Homo sapiens: one gene and its partners. The protein of the gene in region 2 purifies or fractionates together with the protein of the main gene of each other region. This does not show direct contact. Each region holds a gene or a part of one and is shown on either strand. Other genes may lie near its edges.

Region 1 (3,500 bases), on a different chromosome or scaffold from region 2:
AATTAGTTTTTTTAGATGAGGTCTCATTCTGTTGCCCAGGCTGGAGATCTCTGCTAACTATAACCTCTACCTCCTGGGCTTAAGCAATCCTCTCACCTCACCCTCCCAAGTAGCTGGGACTAAAGGCACATGCCACCATGTCTGGCTATTTTTTATAGATGGGGTTTCACCATGTGATTCAGATTGGTCTTGAACTCCTGGACTCAAGTGATCCGCCTGCCTTGGCCTCCCAAAGTGCTGGGGTTACATGCATGAGTTACCACGCCTGGCCATAGAGTGATGGTTTCTATATGTCAGGGGCTCACAAGGAGCTCTGAACGTGCACAGCCACCAATGCCCCCATTTTACAGTAGAGCAAACTGACAGAGAGAAGAGGGGACCTGCCCAAGGAAACACAGTTAACAACTGCAGGTGCCAAAAGAGAATGCAGGCTGGCTGGCCCCACGGGGTCACCTCTCCAAAGCCCCAGGAACCTTCAACTGCCCTCTGGATGCCACAGCCCAGGCCAGCCATCCTGGGTGCCCTGCGGCACCCCCACACACCTCTCTATCTCGTCCCGGCTGAGCACCTCCTGCTTCTTCAGTGCTTTGATGGCGTAGTATTTCCCTGTCCCCTTGAACTGGACCAGGAGGACCTGGGGCCAGAGAGAGGTTGTGCTCCAGGTGGGCCAGACCAGGGAGCCTTTACCGCCCCCACAGATCAGGTCCTCCCGGCTCATGTGATGAGGCCCCCAATCCCGTCCCATACCACCCTCTTCAGCCCACTACCTTCCCAAAGTGTCCCCGGCCCAGCACAGCTAAGCAGCGGAAGTCCTGAAGCCGAGGGGGTTTCCTGCAAAGGAAGAGAGGGTATATGAAGTCCCCTAGGGCACTGGCTGGGCCCCTACCCAGAGCCACTCCAAGCCTCCCATGCCCAGTCCTGGGCTGTCCCGACCTATGGGCTCGAAAAAGCCCTGCAGTAAGGACTCCTAGAAGCCGGCATAGAGCTGGAGCTCAATAATGTGGGTTTAGTAAATCAGACCCCGAGAGCCAGTCAGCGCACCCGCCAGGGAGCCAGGGAGTAATGTATGAATGGATACACAAATGTTCAAGCAAGCAGACGAACGTCTCAAACATGAAGGTGCGCAGGATGGGGTACCTGGTGGGGGAGGCTGGTGGAGATGGCCCACGTCGAGTCCTAGGCTCCATATGGGGACGTTTGGTGCGCTGTGAGTATAGAGGAGCTCAGGGCAGGGCTGGGCTTCCTTCTCTCTTTCCCTTCAGGCCTGCCACCCCACAGCTGGGTGGCCCTGCCAGCCCCAGCCGGCCCTAGGAGCCACTAGTCCCTCCAGCCCCTCACCGGAGTCTCCTCGGATGTTGGCTCCTGGGGGAGGTAGAGGCGTGGGGGCTTGGGTGGGGGTGTCATCTCTTCACCCAAGGGGGTCTTCTTGGGCAGGAAATTACTGTAGGGAGAAAGTAGACACAGTGCCCAGCACAGGCAGACGCAAGAGCTGGCAGGATGGACACACCAACCCAAAGTGAGATGGACAGAGGGTTAGCGGGCTGAGCAATGCAGACAGACAGACAGATACCGCCTGGATCTGGAGTCAGGAAGCCGCCACAGAGGAGCATGCAGTCTAGGGCAAGGGAGCTCCTCACCTGGGAGTGGCAGGGTCAGAGGCCTCTCGCAGTGTTGTTGGGGTCCGAGGGCATCCTTTAGGGGGGCTGATTGTGCTCGGGGAGCTGCAGGGGGGCAGCAGGTTCATGACGAGGCGCCCCCAGGCCGCCATGCCGAGGTTCATCTGCGAAGCCCTCAGGAAGTCCTGGCCTGGGAGAAAAGGGGGAGCTTAGTCCCGGGACCCCAGCCCTGCTCCCTCACACATAGCCCCCATTCCCTCCACACCTCTGCGTTTAGAGAAGATGCGTTCCTGCCTCTGCAGCCGGGGCCGCCTCTCAATGACAGGATCGCAGAAGGTCACCTGCAGGGGTAGGGGCAGGGTTGTGGACCAGTCGCCTCCCATCTCATCTGCCATGGCACCTCCTCTGCCCCTGGGATTACAGCCCAAGCCCCCAGGGTCAACAGATGCAAGAGCCAGAAAGACCCAGAGAAACAGATTCAATGTCCTCATTGATACTAGTGGAGAAACAGAGGCCCAGGGAGGAGAGGCACTTTTCCAGGGTCACACCTGAGGCAGGGCAGTCAGGACAAGGACCCAGGCCTCCAGATGCAGCCCTGAGAGAGCGGCTAGGAGCCCTTATTCCTGGAGCCCTCCTCTCTGGTCGTCAGTCTCTGCACCTACACGCAGTGCATCGGTCTTGAAGGCCTTCCTGGCCCTGACGCCCCAGGGTCCCACCAAGTCAGAGGGCGGAGGTGGTGAGCACCTGGGCAAAAAGCAGTCCCTGCGGTACCAGGCTGAGGGACAGTTGGTGACAGGCATTGTCCAGGAAGTCCTCAAGTCTCAGGAAGGCCACGCCACATAGCTGCCGCCAGTCCCGCCAGTGTACCCCAATCTCCAGCTCACGGGCCTGTATTGGGGAGGCCAGGCTGAAGGGTGGGGTGCAGAACGAGCCCCGACCTGGGCAGCCTTCCACCCCGCAGCCCAAGGTCACCCCTGACCACACAAAGGCCAGCCTTACTCGCTCCAGTGGGATGACAAAGGTCTGGTCCCAGGACTGTTCGGCCACCTGCCCCCAGCCCGTCTGCCCCACAACACGGTTGTCCACCTTTAGCACAGCCAGCACCTCGCCTGCAGGGCCAGAGCCGGGACTCAGGGCAGGCCTGAAGCAGGGGTCTCCTGCTCCCCCTGAAGCTCCTTCCCTACTCACTGGCAAGCTCGCCTCGGCCACGCTGGTGCTTGGCCTTGGTCCGAAGCCAGCCCTCGGAGGGGCTGCTGGCCAGTGCGGCCGCTGGGGAGCGCCCAGGCACGGCTGTCAGCAACTGTTCACAGCCCAGGAGGCGGACCTGCAGTGTCCCTGTGGGGAGAGTGAGCGGGGGGCGTTGTCAGATGCCATCTTCCCACTGCTACCACCAAGGTGTCCTGGGACCCCAGGAAGGCCACCCTCTCCAGGAGGTGGCTGAACCCAGACCGTACCCACCTGAGGCCAGGGCAGTTACCTGAGGAACCTCACTCAGTGTGGCGGCCTAGAGTGCCTAGACTGGAGCCTGCTGACTGTCCTGCAGCTCCCAAGCACCATGAGCCCCCCAAAGGGTACCCTTGGACCCCGATGACACCCTAGGAGGCCTCCGACCTGGACACTCCCAGGTGAGGAGCCACGTTGTCCCAGAATGCACACTTCTCTGTGGCAGCCACCTCTTTCCAGGGCAGAGCAACTGGCTCTCCCCTCCACATGCTGGAGCGGCAGGGACATAGGCTCAGACCTCAGACCTTAGCCAGGCTGCACAGAGCCACAGCACATGACGAGATGCTGCCTAGAAGTGGGGCCTAGAGAGCACTGTGGCAAGGATAAGAGCTTGGGACAGGGAGCAGGAAGCCTGGCTTCCTGTCCGGACCCACCTGCTCC
Region 2 (3,500 bases):
ACAGGGACCTGCTAAGGTCACACAGCCAGCAAGTGATGGAGCAGGTTCTCCTGCTCTAGTCCCCACCGGGCCTGTGGCCTTGCCTATCCCCTCACCTCTGCCTTATTTCTTCCCGCTGCCATTTTTTTTTAAGAGATAGGGTCTTGTTCTGTTGCCCAGGCTGGAGTGCAGTGGTATAATCCTAGCTCACGGCAACCTCAAAATCCTGGGCTCAAGAAATCCTCCTGGCCGGGTGCGGTGGCTCACACCTGTAATCCCAGCACTTTGGGAGGCCGAGACAGATAGATCATCTGAGGTCAGGAGTTTGAGACCAGCCTGATCAATATGGTGAAACCTTGTCTCTACTACAAATACACAAATTAGCCTGGCATGATGGTGTGCACCTTTAGTCCCAGCTACTCGGGAAGCTGAGACAGGAGAATTGCTTGAATCCGGGAGGCAGAGGTTGCAGTGAGCTGAGATCATACCACTGCACTAAAGCCTGGGTGACAGAACAAGACTCCGTCTCAAAAAAAAAAGAAAAAAAAAAAAGAGATCTCTTGCCTCAGCCTCCCAAGTAGCTGGGACTACAGGTGCCTGCTACCATGCCTGGCTAATTTTTTTAAGAGACAGGGTCTTGCTATGTTGCCCAGGCTGGTCTTGAACCCCGACCGCAAGTGATTCTCCCACTTCAACCTCCGGAATAGCTGGGATTACAGATGTAAGCCACTATGCCCAGCAATAAACTTTTTAAAAAATATATAAGTACAACTGCTTTCTAAGGAAGGTGGGGTCTGCTGAATAGATGATCCTTTGTTCTGCTGCTGAGAGCCAGAATGAGCCCGAGAGCAGTTGCTGAAAGGTACTGAGTCATCCTGCCTAGGAGGGAAGAGGCATTTGAAATTCCTGGAGCAAGAAGAGTAAGGAGGAGGGTTGGAGATGGACGGTATGAATAAGGTGGGGGCAGAGTGGGGCGGAAGGGGCAGGCAGTAGCTGAGTGTCACGTGGAACCAGAGAGAAACCCCGGGACAGGACAAATAAACCCAACTATTTGATATAAACATTTGAAGTTGTTTACATTGAATTTCCACCTTTTCTCTTCCTCTATAATCTCCAGCAAATTTTCTTCTGCTTAGCTTGAGCTCAAGGAGGATGAGTATAAAAAACAAGGAAGAGCTTGAGTTTCAGATCTGAGTCAAGGTTATATGCAGCAAAAGCAAGACCCCAGAGGGTTTTGCAAACATCTGGAGACCAGGGCAGTCAAGAGAGCAAGCTGATCTTATCTAGCCCTTCAGAGCCTGGGAAACCCCCAGGGCATCCCTGGGCTCCACCAGAACACGAACTGCTCATGCATAAATATTTACATATATGTGGCCATGCAAACATACACCACTTTCCCAAATACAGGCACATGCACGCTTGCACACACAGAGAGACTTTGTAGAGTCTGCTGCTTCCTCTCTCCATCGCTCCCCCTTAGCTTTGGCCCACCCTGCTTTGTGGGAAGGTGGTTTAGGGCCGGCAGGTCTGGGTTGAGTCATCAAGGAGAAGCACTAGTAGCTTCAGGGGGTTGGGGGCTGTGTGCAGGAGGGGCTCCCCAGGTCACAGGGCTGTCCTTTCTCTCTGAGTAACCAGGATATAAAAGTCACTGTGTGGGCTGGCCACCCTCCTTCTGCAATGGAACCTCAGACTGACTCACCTGCAGCCTCCCCAGGCCCTATTGAGTGGAGCCAGGTGGCAGTCCCCTAAAATGGCCTGCAGGTGTCTTCTTTGGGAAGCCCCAGAAAATACGGTGCCCCTGAGTGACCAGAGACAGGAGGAGGCAAGGGAGGCTGCCCAATGGATAGGAAAGAAGGTCCATTCTGTGCTCCCCAAATCCAAGATGGGAAAAGCCATTGCCCACCTCCAGGGCTTTAAAGAGCCACAGAGTCATCCTGTCTCCAAAGTCCCCACCCTCTGCCACGGTCCCTGAATGGTCCTGGCCCGGCTCAGTTCTTGGTTCTGCCAGGAAGATTGTTTAACTGACCTGGGGAGCCTGTCCCTTCTCAGAGCTGAAATTTTCCTTTCTGTAAATGGAGACAATGCCTCATCCAGCCAGTCATATATTATCTGTCATAGGAGTGTCAGGAAGGCAGGGACCTTGTCTGTCTTGGTATCATAGTTTCCCAGCATCAAGCACAAGGTGGATACTCAATCAATATTCATTGAATGAAATTAGTCTCAGTTTACTTATCTCTCTTTAATGCATCTATCTACCTATCCATCCACCCGTCCACCCACTCTTATCAATCTTCTACCCATTCCTCGCCCACCTGCCACCTCCTGCCCAACCCCTATTCATCTCCATTCATCCATCTACCCACTCCCTCTCCCCTACCTACCACCTGTCAATCTTCCGCCCCCTTTTATCTCACCTACTCATCCATCCCTCATCATCCCCTCCCCATCCCTTCTTCCATCCATCCATCTGTCCATCCATCCACCCATCCATCCATCCATCCATTCATCCATCTATCCACCCATCCATCCATCCATCCATCCATCCATCCATCCATCCATCCATCCATCCACTTCCTGATTCAGCCAACACTGGCTGGAATTACTTTTGAGTATATACAAAAATCTCAGGCCCTCTTATCCTTAACCTTGAGCTCTTTCTCCCATAGGCACTGGTGCTGAGTTTGAAGAGAGTGCTTCCATCCCAATAAATGCCATCAGATCACTCTGTTTATTCAGTCAACCAACAAATGCTGGTTCCTCTTGCCAGGCCCTGTGCTGGGTGCTGTGAGGTACAGTGAGATGAACAAGGAATGCCTCTGGCCTCAGAAGGCTCCCAGCCTGATGGACAGGTAAATTAGGCACACAAAGTATCAGAGGTTTTATTTATTTTTTTTAATTGAACACCTACTGTGTATTGGACCCTGTGTCCAGCATGTACACATCTGCTCTCTTTAATTCCCAACATTCCTGCAAAGGGAGTATTATCCCAACTTTACAGATGCAGAAGCTGGAAATAAGAGAGGCTAAATGTGCCCAGTGCCACACAGCTGCATGGTGGCAGAGCTAGTTTTCTACTCAGCCCCTAAACACCCCACTGTTCTAGGCTACCCTAGATGCCAGGTAGAAACACAGTGTTCCAGAACATACCACAAACATATTGGGGTTTACATGAGGGAGAGACCACTTCCAACTTCAAATGGTCAGGGGAGGCTTCTTGGAGGAATTCTCCTTTAGGCTGGACCTCAAGGACTTCTAAGAGTCTTCCAGGGTCTTAGAAGGAGACTCAGGAAATGTCCTGGGTTGCTGGATGAGGTGATAAAGGGAGGGCTTGAGCCATTGCCCAGCTGTGTGTCCTGAGCAAGTCACTCGGACTCCCTGAGCCTCAGTTTCCTTACTTGTAAAATGGATGTGACAATACCTGCTTCACAGTGTGGTTGTGAGAATAAGAATTTTTTAACTTCTGGAGCATTTTTCCCTTAGGGCAAGGTTTCTCAACAGTGACACTACTGACATTTTGGACC
Region 3 (3,500 bases), on a different chromosome or scaffold from region 2:
AAAAATGTTACGAAAGAGACGCCAGTCAACAGCCTTCTTGGACCGGAGCCAGCCAACAGACACAACAGAGCCCACCTAGAAGAGAAGCAGACCAAGGAAACAGGTTATTGAAGTGCCAGTGGTATTCTGGCAAACAGACACCTGAGACTGTTTGGACAAGGAGCCCCAGACCCCTGGACAAGACAAAGTCCAAGAAAGCTGGTTTACAACAGGTTAAGCTGGGAAAATGAAGGCAATTTGAAAATCCAATCATAATCTATACTAACGGTAGTAAAAGGACACAAGAACTATTTCTTTTCCCCTTCTCAGCTACTGCTAAAATTTAATGAATATATACTGCTTTTATTTATTTATTTTTTGAGACGGAGTCTCGCACTGTCGCCCAGGCTGGAGTACAGTGGCGCAATCTTGGCTCACTGCAACCTCCACCTCCTGGTTTCATGTGATTCTCCTGCCTCAGCCTCCCAAGTGCTGGGATTACAGGCACCCACCACCACGCCTAGCTAATTTTTTGTATTTTTAGTAGAGATGGGGTTTCACTATGTTGGCCAGGCTGGTCTCAAACTCCTGACCTTGTGATCCACCTGCCTTGGCCTCCCAAAGTGCTGGGATTACAGGCATGAGCCACTGCACCTGGCCTATACACTGCTTTTAATAACAAATTGCATTGTAAGTCTTCCTAAGATTATTTACAGAGTGGCTGATATTAAACCTAATAAACAATTGTCTGGAGACACATCCGGGTAGCAAACAGATGACTCAGCAGGATCCATGATGGACCAGCTTAAATGCTCTTAAGGAAACCAGTTTCTTCCTTCTCCTATAATTATTAGATTGTCATCAAACAACCTTAAGATTTGTTTTGTTTCTCAGTATTTCAATCCTGAGAGGCCCTGAAATATGCCTTCTGTAAATAAACTGCTTTGCCAACATTTTGGCAAGCCTCACAGACTTGTTAGAACCAGGCCTTCAGCCACCACAAATGGCAGCAGAAACCCACCTGGCCAGAATTAAAGCACCTGCCAGTTTCTAAGCATACACCTACCCTGCTCTGAATGGCTTCCCCAAAGGCAAAGAACATAATGCTGTCGGCCGGGCGCGGTGGCTCACGCATGTAATCCTAGCACTTTGGGAGGCCGAGCCAGGTGGATCACCTGAGGTTAGGAGTTCATGACCAGCTTGGCCAACATGGTGAAATCCTGTGTCTACTAAAAATACAAAAATTAGCCAGGCATGGTGGCGGGTGCCTATAATCCCAGCTACTTGAGAGGCTGAAGCACAAGAATCACTTGAGCCCAGGAGGCGGAGGTTGCAATGAGCCGAGATTGTGCCACTGAACTCCAGCCCAGGTGACACAGCAAGACTCCAACTCATACATAAATAAATAAAACATAATGGTGCCAAGTAGAAATGACTCTTGAGATTAAAAAAAAAATTATTATAAAGAGACTACAATGAGGGAGGATAAAGTAACAAAGGAAGAGGTTAGTAGCCAGAAACTACAGTAAGCTGTATATAAAACAATGTTTCTATTATTTGGGGAGAATATCTATTTAATTGCTTAAATAAGAATAAACACAAGAAATAACTTATGAACTCTTCAAGACTCCAACTGCACAAAACTTTCTAAATCAAAGTATCAGAGAAGTAAAACTAAAAACCCTACATATTAGAAGAACCATTTGAAAGACACACATTGGCATTACACTTACTTTACAATGTGTTGTACTGATGGGAAGGCCAATATTTGATGCAATCACCACAGTGAGGGCAGATGCCAGTTCAATACTGAAGCCACTACAGACACAAAAGGATTCTTGTCAGGAAGTGAGTTTGACTTTTTTGAGAAGCTAACACTACACCTCAAGTTAACACAGTCCTGCTTTGTTCTACTCAGTCACAAAACCTCCACTGACATCTTTATTTGCTATAACCCCTAAGATCTACTTTATTTAAATCAGGCCACAGATGCCCAGTTTCCTTATTCAAAGGCTTCCAGTTTTACGTTTTTCTGGAATCCCACTATTAAATAAAATTTGCACTTTTATTTTGAAGAGTTTGGTAAACATTGAGTCTTAGCTCCCAAGACAAATAAAAGGCAAGTATACATAACTATCCGCTCTTAGCATACACAGCTTTCTCAGAAAAGTCATTTTCTTCAGAGACCACCAGAGCTAAATGGGTAAAATGTCTGACCAAAATGTTTAAGGGCCAGACAAGTAAAATCTAAAAAGAACAATGACAATAAGAACATCATGAACTTATACAAACTTGGTTACTTTAGAGATTTGTGTTAGCACTCGACAGTGTTATATCTCTGAAAAAAATGAGTACTGACATTTGTAGAACCTGCTCCACCTACTTACCTAGAGGGTGTGATCGGTGTCAGATCCTTCCCCATGGTCTGGATAACTCTTCTTCCCCAAACCCACAGACCAACACAGATACCAACACCACCATAGAGTAGAAGCCATATTGGTGTTGCCACTTTTGAAGAAACATCTCCTGTGTCATAAACCAAATATAAAGCAACCAGAGGCCCAATGGCATTGCTGGAAGAAACAAAGAGGGCAGAAGTGACTTTTCAGGCAGAACTAGATCTTGGCAAGACCCAATCTGCTGAATGATCTACCAGGTTGTCTAAAGTACAGCTTTCAAGCTCATCTGGCAAAAGGGCCTTTCTTTCTAAAGACATAAATGGAACCCCAACATACACAACAGAAAAATGAACACAGCTCTGATGGAGGGAATGCCAGGCAAATGGTGGCCTCTTTCCTCCTATAGGCAGCTTAAAGCAACTCTCAGGTTCCAATAAACAGTTTACAAACCAAACTACAAAATCATTCTATATGAAAAACTTTTAAGTTTTTCATCTTACATCTTACATCCCACAATTCACTACCAAAGAACTGAATCTCATCTTGATGGACAAAAGCCTTCTCTGTGAAGAGTATCTGTTTATATTTATCATCTACAAAAATAAACATTCTTTGTAATTCCTCTGAAGAATAAAACTGTACTGTCTTATTATGTCAATAACTGCTATTACCTCATCCTATTTGTATTATTTGGGGTCCTGTAAATGCTAGGAGTACCACTACCACAAGCACAGGCCTGTGACAAGGATAAATGGTTTAAAAATAGGGTTAGCAACACTAAGATCAATGTCAACTGACCTTACGTCATTGCCACCATGGGCGAATGACCCAAAGCAGGCTGTAAGGATCTGCAGGAACTGGAAGAGGAGAGAGACTTCAGGCTTATCCTGGTCATACCATTCTTCTAGAGAGCCATTACTTCCTTTTCTGTCACCTAGACCCATCTCTGCCTTGACACTCATGTCTATCTCAGATGCTGAGTGAAGGTCAGACACAGCATTGCAGTAACTGGTGTAACTGTCCATTCGAATTCGCTTCTTGGAGTCTGCATTAGGCCATGTCAGCTTCTCCATTTCTTCGCCCTTCTGTTCACCTTCTTTGGCACGGAATGAATCCAGAGGC
Region 4 (3,290 bases), on a different chromosome or scaffold from region 2:
ACTTGGAGCCTCATCCCGGAGAAAGGGCTGCCGGAGGACGACCCGGACATCGTTGTGAAAGGTAGAGACCCCCCTCAGTGCACTCTGGAGGCCCCCAATCCCAACCCCCTAGGGATTAATGTCTCTACTGATGTCCCTTCCCTCCCTCTCCGGCCCCCAGGTTGGCTGTACCGGGAGCCCCGCGGAGGAGGGGCGCGGCCCTGGCTGCCCCCGCGCCGAGCCTGGTTTGTGCTCACGCGGGACTCCCTGGATCAGTTCAGCAGCAGCGGGAAAGGGGCGCGGCGTCTCGGGAGCCTCGTGCTCACCAGCCTGTGCTCGGTGACCGGCCCAGAGCGCAGGCGTAAGGAGACAGGTGAGACCTCCTGGGGACTCTCCTACCTTCCTAGGCAGGGGCCCCGGCAGACCCTAATGGCCCTCCCTGGCCTCTCTTTTCCCCAGGTCTGTGGTCAGTGACTGTGTCTGGTCGGAAACACAGTGTCCGCCTCTGCTCCCCACGCCAGGCAGAGGCTGAGCGCTGGGGGGTGGCATTGCGGGAAGTGATCGCCTCCAAGGCACCCCTGGAGACCCCCACCCAGCTACTGCTCAGGGACATACAGGTACACACCAGGGAGAGCCAGGAGAGTGGTGGACCCCAAAGCTTTCTGGGGTTGTGAGGAACTCCCTTCCCCATCAAGGTGACCCTCTCCCTGGCCCCCTAGGAAAGTTGCGGGGACCCAGAGGCCGTTGCCCTCATTTACCTGAGGAACCCGATTCTGAGACACACTAGTGGAGCCTTGTATGCCCCACTCCTGCCCCTGCCCTATGGAGTCAGCGCCCCAGGTGAGTGGTCCCATGGCCCAAGTCCCCTGGATGGGATGGGGTGGTTCAGAGGTAAGAATCTGAATCCCTTAACTGGCAGGGATCTAAGCATCCTTCATGGACCTGCCAGCTCCTCACTTTTCGAAGGATGAAGGTGAAACTGGAAGCTGGCCAGGGTGGAGGAGAGGAAGCCAGCACACACAAAAGGGCCCCCTTTGGCCACCTTCTCTATGGGTCTCATTCTGACTACTGATGTTCCTTCAGGAGTTTGTACACTCCCCTATTTTTTCATTATCCTCTTGAGACTATGCCATATTACCTTTACAAGTGGTAGAAAAGCTACCACTTTTGTAGAATGTGCTGGCCTCATCCAACTGTACTTCTCCCTAAACGGTGTAGTGACTGGCCCAGGTCCTAAAGTTAGAGGATTAAAGGGTGCTGGGAGAGGAACCCCGGTTTTCTGACTCCTAGTCCAGCCTGTTTTCTGACCTATGGTGGTGAGCCTCAGTATGGAGTTACAGAATCTGGGGTGTGAATCTACAGCCCTTCCCGGCCGTCCGTCTCCCTAAGTCCAAATGCAGGCTTAGTGGGATTGGGAAGGGGATTCCTGGGAGGCAGAGGTTGAGAGTCTGGCTCCGTGGGACCACTGCTTTCCCTTCACTCTTCCTGTCGTTCGTACCCTCCCCTCCCTGCCACCCCATCCCCTTATATTCCCTCTGACCTTCCCCTGGTTCATGCCTTCCTCCCAGGGCGCAGCTCTGTGTCCCCTCTCCAAACCGTCCCTCCGCCCCCACCCTCCCACAGGTCCGGGCTATGCACCCCTGCGCGAGGAGGCGGTGCGGCTGTTCTTGGCGCTGCAGGCGCTGGAGGGGGCGCGGCGCCCCGGGCCCTTGATGCAGGGTGTGCTCCAAACCTGCCGGGACTTGCCCGCGCTCCGGGATGAACTCTTCCTGCAGCTGGCTAAGCAGACCTCGGGCCCTGCAGGTCCCCCCGGGCTCCCGGCTACCCAAGACCCTGCGGCCCTGCGGTACTGGCAACTCCTCACCTGCATGAGCTGCACCTTCCGACCTGGGGGAGCTGTGCGGGGGCACCTCCTGGGGCACTTGGAGAGGTGAGAGGGGCGAGGTGGGGGTTACGGCCTAGGCGAGGAGCTACCGGGCTGGGAGAGAATGAAAGGTCTTTTGCAAAAGACTTGGTAGGTAAAGAACCGAGTAATACATACAGTGCCTTTGTGGGAGATACAAGATCCTATCGCAGTTGTGAGCGGATGAATTACAATAAAACGCCCCCCTTGGGCTGAGGAGTTATGAAAAGGCTGCTTTTCCTCCAGCTGATGCAGGCCAGCGCCAGGGCTTAGGAAAATGTAGTAAAGTGGCTGGATTTCGATTTCAGGCCGAAGGAAGATCACGAAGACTTTTGGAAGTGGTGGAGGCAGTTGGGAGAAAGCTGCCAGGGGACTTGAAAAGTAATTCAGCTCTATGCAAAGCACTGGGGAGAGATTTAGAAGAGCCTTCAAAGAACTTGAGTTGGGGCGGGGAGGAAATCGGCTAGATAAAATAAACTATAAGAGAAGCAGGCAAGAGGGAGGGGGAGAAGAAAGCCCTTGGAGTATTGATCCCTGGGTTCCTCCTAACCCAGGACCGAGCAGGCACTCCCGGACTCGGAACTGGCGGAATATGCGCGCTTCATCCGGAAAGCGCTGGGCCGGACGCGCGGCAGAGAGCTGGTGCCCTCGCTGGCGGAGATTTCCGCGTTGAGCCAACGGCAGGAGCTGCTGTGTACCGTGCACTGTCCGGGGGCTGGTGCCTGTGCTGTGGCCATCGACTCCCACACCACGGCGGGGGAGGTGAGGCCAGAGAAAGGCCCCATGACCTCCAACCCACCCTGCCAGCTTCTCACGCCTGTCTCTCCCTCTTCCTGGACCCTAGGTTTGCCCCGAGTCTAGATTATTTTGGTAAGGGAGGGAGTGGTGGTGACAGGACTAAGAGACCCCTTCCAATTGAATCAACCCCTCCCAGAATCCTGGCAAGACCTCTGAGTGGTCTCCCCTCACCCTCCTCTTCTAGGTGGCTCGAGAGCTGGTGGGGCGGCTGGGCTTGGCCCGGAGCCGCAACGCATTCGCGCTGTACGAGCAGCGAGGGGCCCAGGAGCGAGCCCTGGCTGGGGGGACCCTCGTGGCCGACGTGCTCACCAGGTTTGAGAAGTAAATGTCCAGCCCCAGCCCTGCTCTCTATTAGCCCATCCACTTCTCAGCTGAGGTCAGTCTCTAAGCGGACATTATCCAGCGCTTGCCCCTGGCCCTGCGCTGTGGTGTTCGCTGGTTTACAGACGGACCTGCCCGCCGCAGGTTTGCAGTCCGACTGCAGCATCACCTCCGCTGTCGGCTCCGCCCAGGCCCCGCCCCAAACACATGGCCCCGCCCCCACCCCAAGCTGCCCTCGCCGTAGGGGTCCGGCTTCTCCCTAGCGCTTCGTCCGCTCCTCTTCTGCAGC

Evidence for each region.
Region 1: the proteins of CX3CL1 (region 2) and PKN3 purify together in Homo sapiens (affinity purification with mass spectrometry; one large-scale study listed by BioGRID and IntAct). This does not show direct contact.
Region 3: the proteins of CX3CL1 (region 2) and SLC20A1 purify together in Homo sapiens (affinity purification with mass spectrometry; one large-scale study listed by BioGRID and IntAct). This does not show direct contact.
Region 4: the proteins of CX3CL1 (region 2) and PLEKHH3 purify together in Homo sapiens (affinity purification with mass spectrometry; one large-scale study listed by BioGRID and IntAct). This does not show direct contact.

The regions. Positions count from the first base shown.
Region 1 is NC_000009.12:128,712,503-128,716,002, reverse strand, and holds part of PKN3 (serine/threonine-protein kinase N3), read right to left. Parts: intron 2,952-3,500; coding exon 2,805-2,951; intron 2,726-2,804; coding exon 2,616-2,725; intron 2,505-2,615; coding exon 2,361-2,504; intron 1,958-2,360; coding exon 1,882-1,957; intron 1,807-1,881; coding exon 1,638-1,806; intron 1,442-1,637; coding exon 1,339-1,441; intron 1,206-1,338; coding exon 1,138-1,205; intron 832-1,137; coding exon 768-831; intron 635-767; coding exon 543-634; intron 1-542.
Region 2 is NC_000016.10:57,375,490-57,378,989, reverse strand, and holds part of CX3CL1 (fractalkine isoform 1 precursor), read right to left. Parts: intron 1-3,500. UniProt on the Homo sapiens protein: Chemokine that acts as a ligand for both CX3CR1 and integrins ITGAV:ITGB3 and ITGA4:ITGB1. The CX3CR1-CX3CL1 signaling exerts distinct functions in different tissue compartments, such as immune response, inflammation, cell adhesion and chemotaxis.
Region 3 is NC_000002.12:112,659,439-112,662,938, reverse strand, and holds part of SLC20A1 (sodium-dependent phosphate transporter 1), read right to left. Parts: coding exon 3,177-3,500; intron 2,553-3,176; coding exon 2,367-2,552; intron 1,798-2,366; coding exon 1,713-1,797; intron 76-1,712; coding exon 1-75. UniProt on the Homo sapiens protein: Sodium-phosphate symporter which preferentially transports the monovalent form of phosphate with a stoichiometry of two sodium ions per phosphate ion. May play a role in extracellular matrix and cartilage calcification as well as in vascular calcification.
Region 4 is NC_000017.11:42,670,705-42,673,994, reverse strand, and holds part of PLEKHH3 (pleckstrin homology domain-containing family H member 3 isoform 1 precursor), read left to right. Parts: coding exon 1-61; intron 62-160; coding exon 161-352; intron 353-438; coding exon 439-596; intron 597-698; coding exon 699-819; intron 820-1,602; coding exon 1,603-1,909; intron 1,910-2,436; coding exon 2,437-2,644; intron 2,645-2,864; coding exon 2,865-3,001; intron 3,002-3,289; coding exon 3,290-3,290.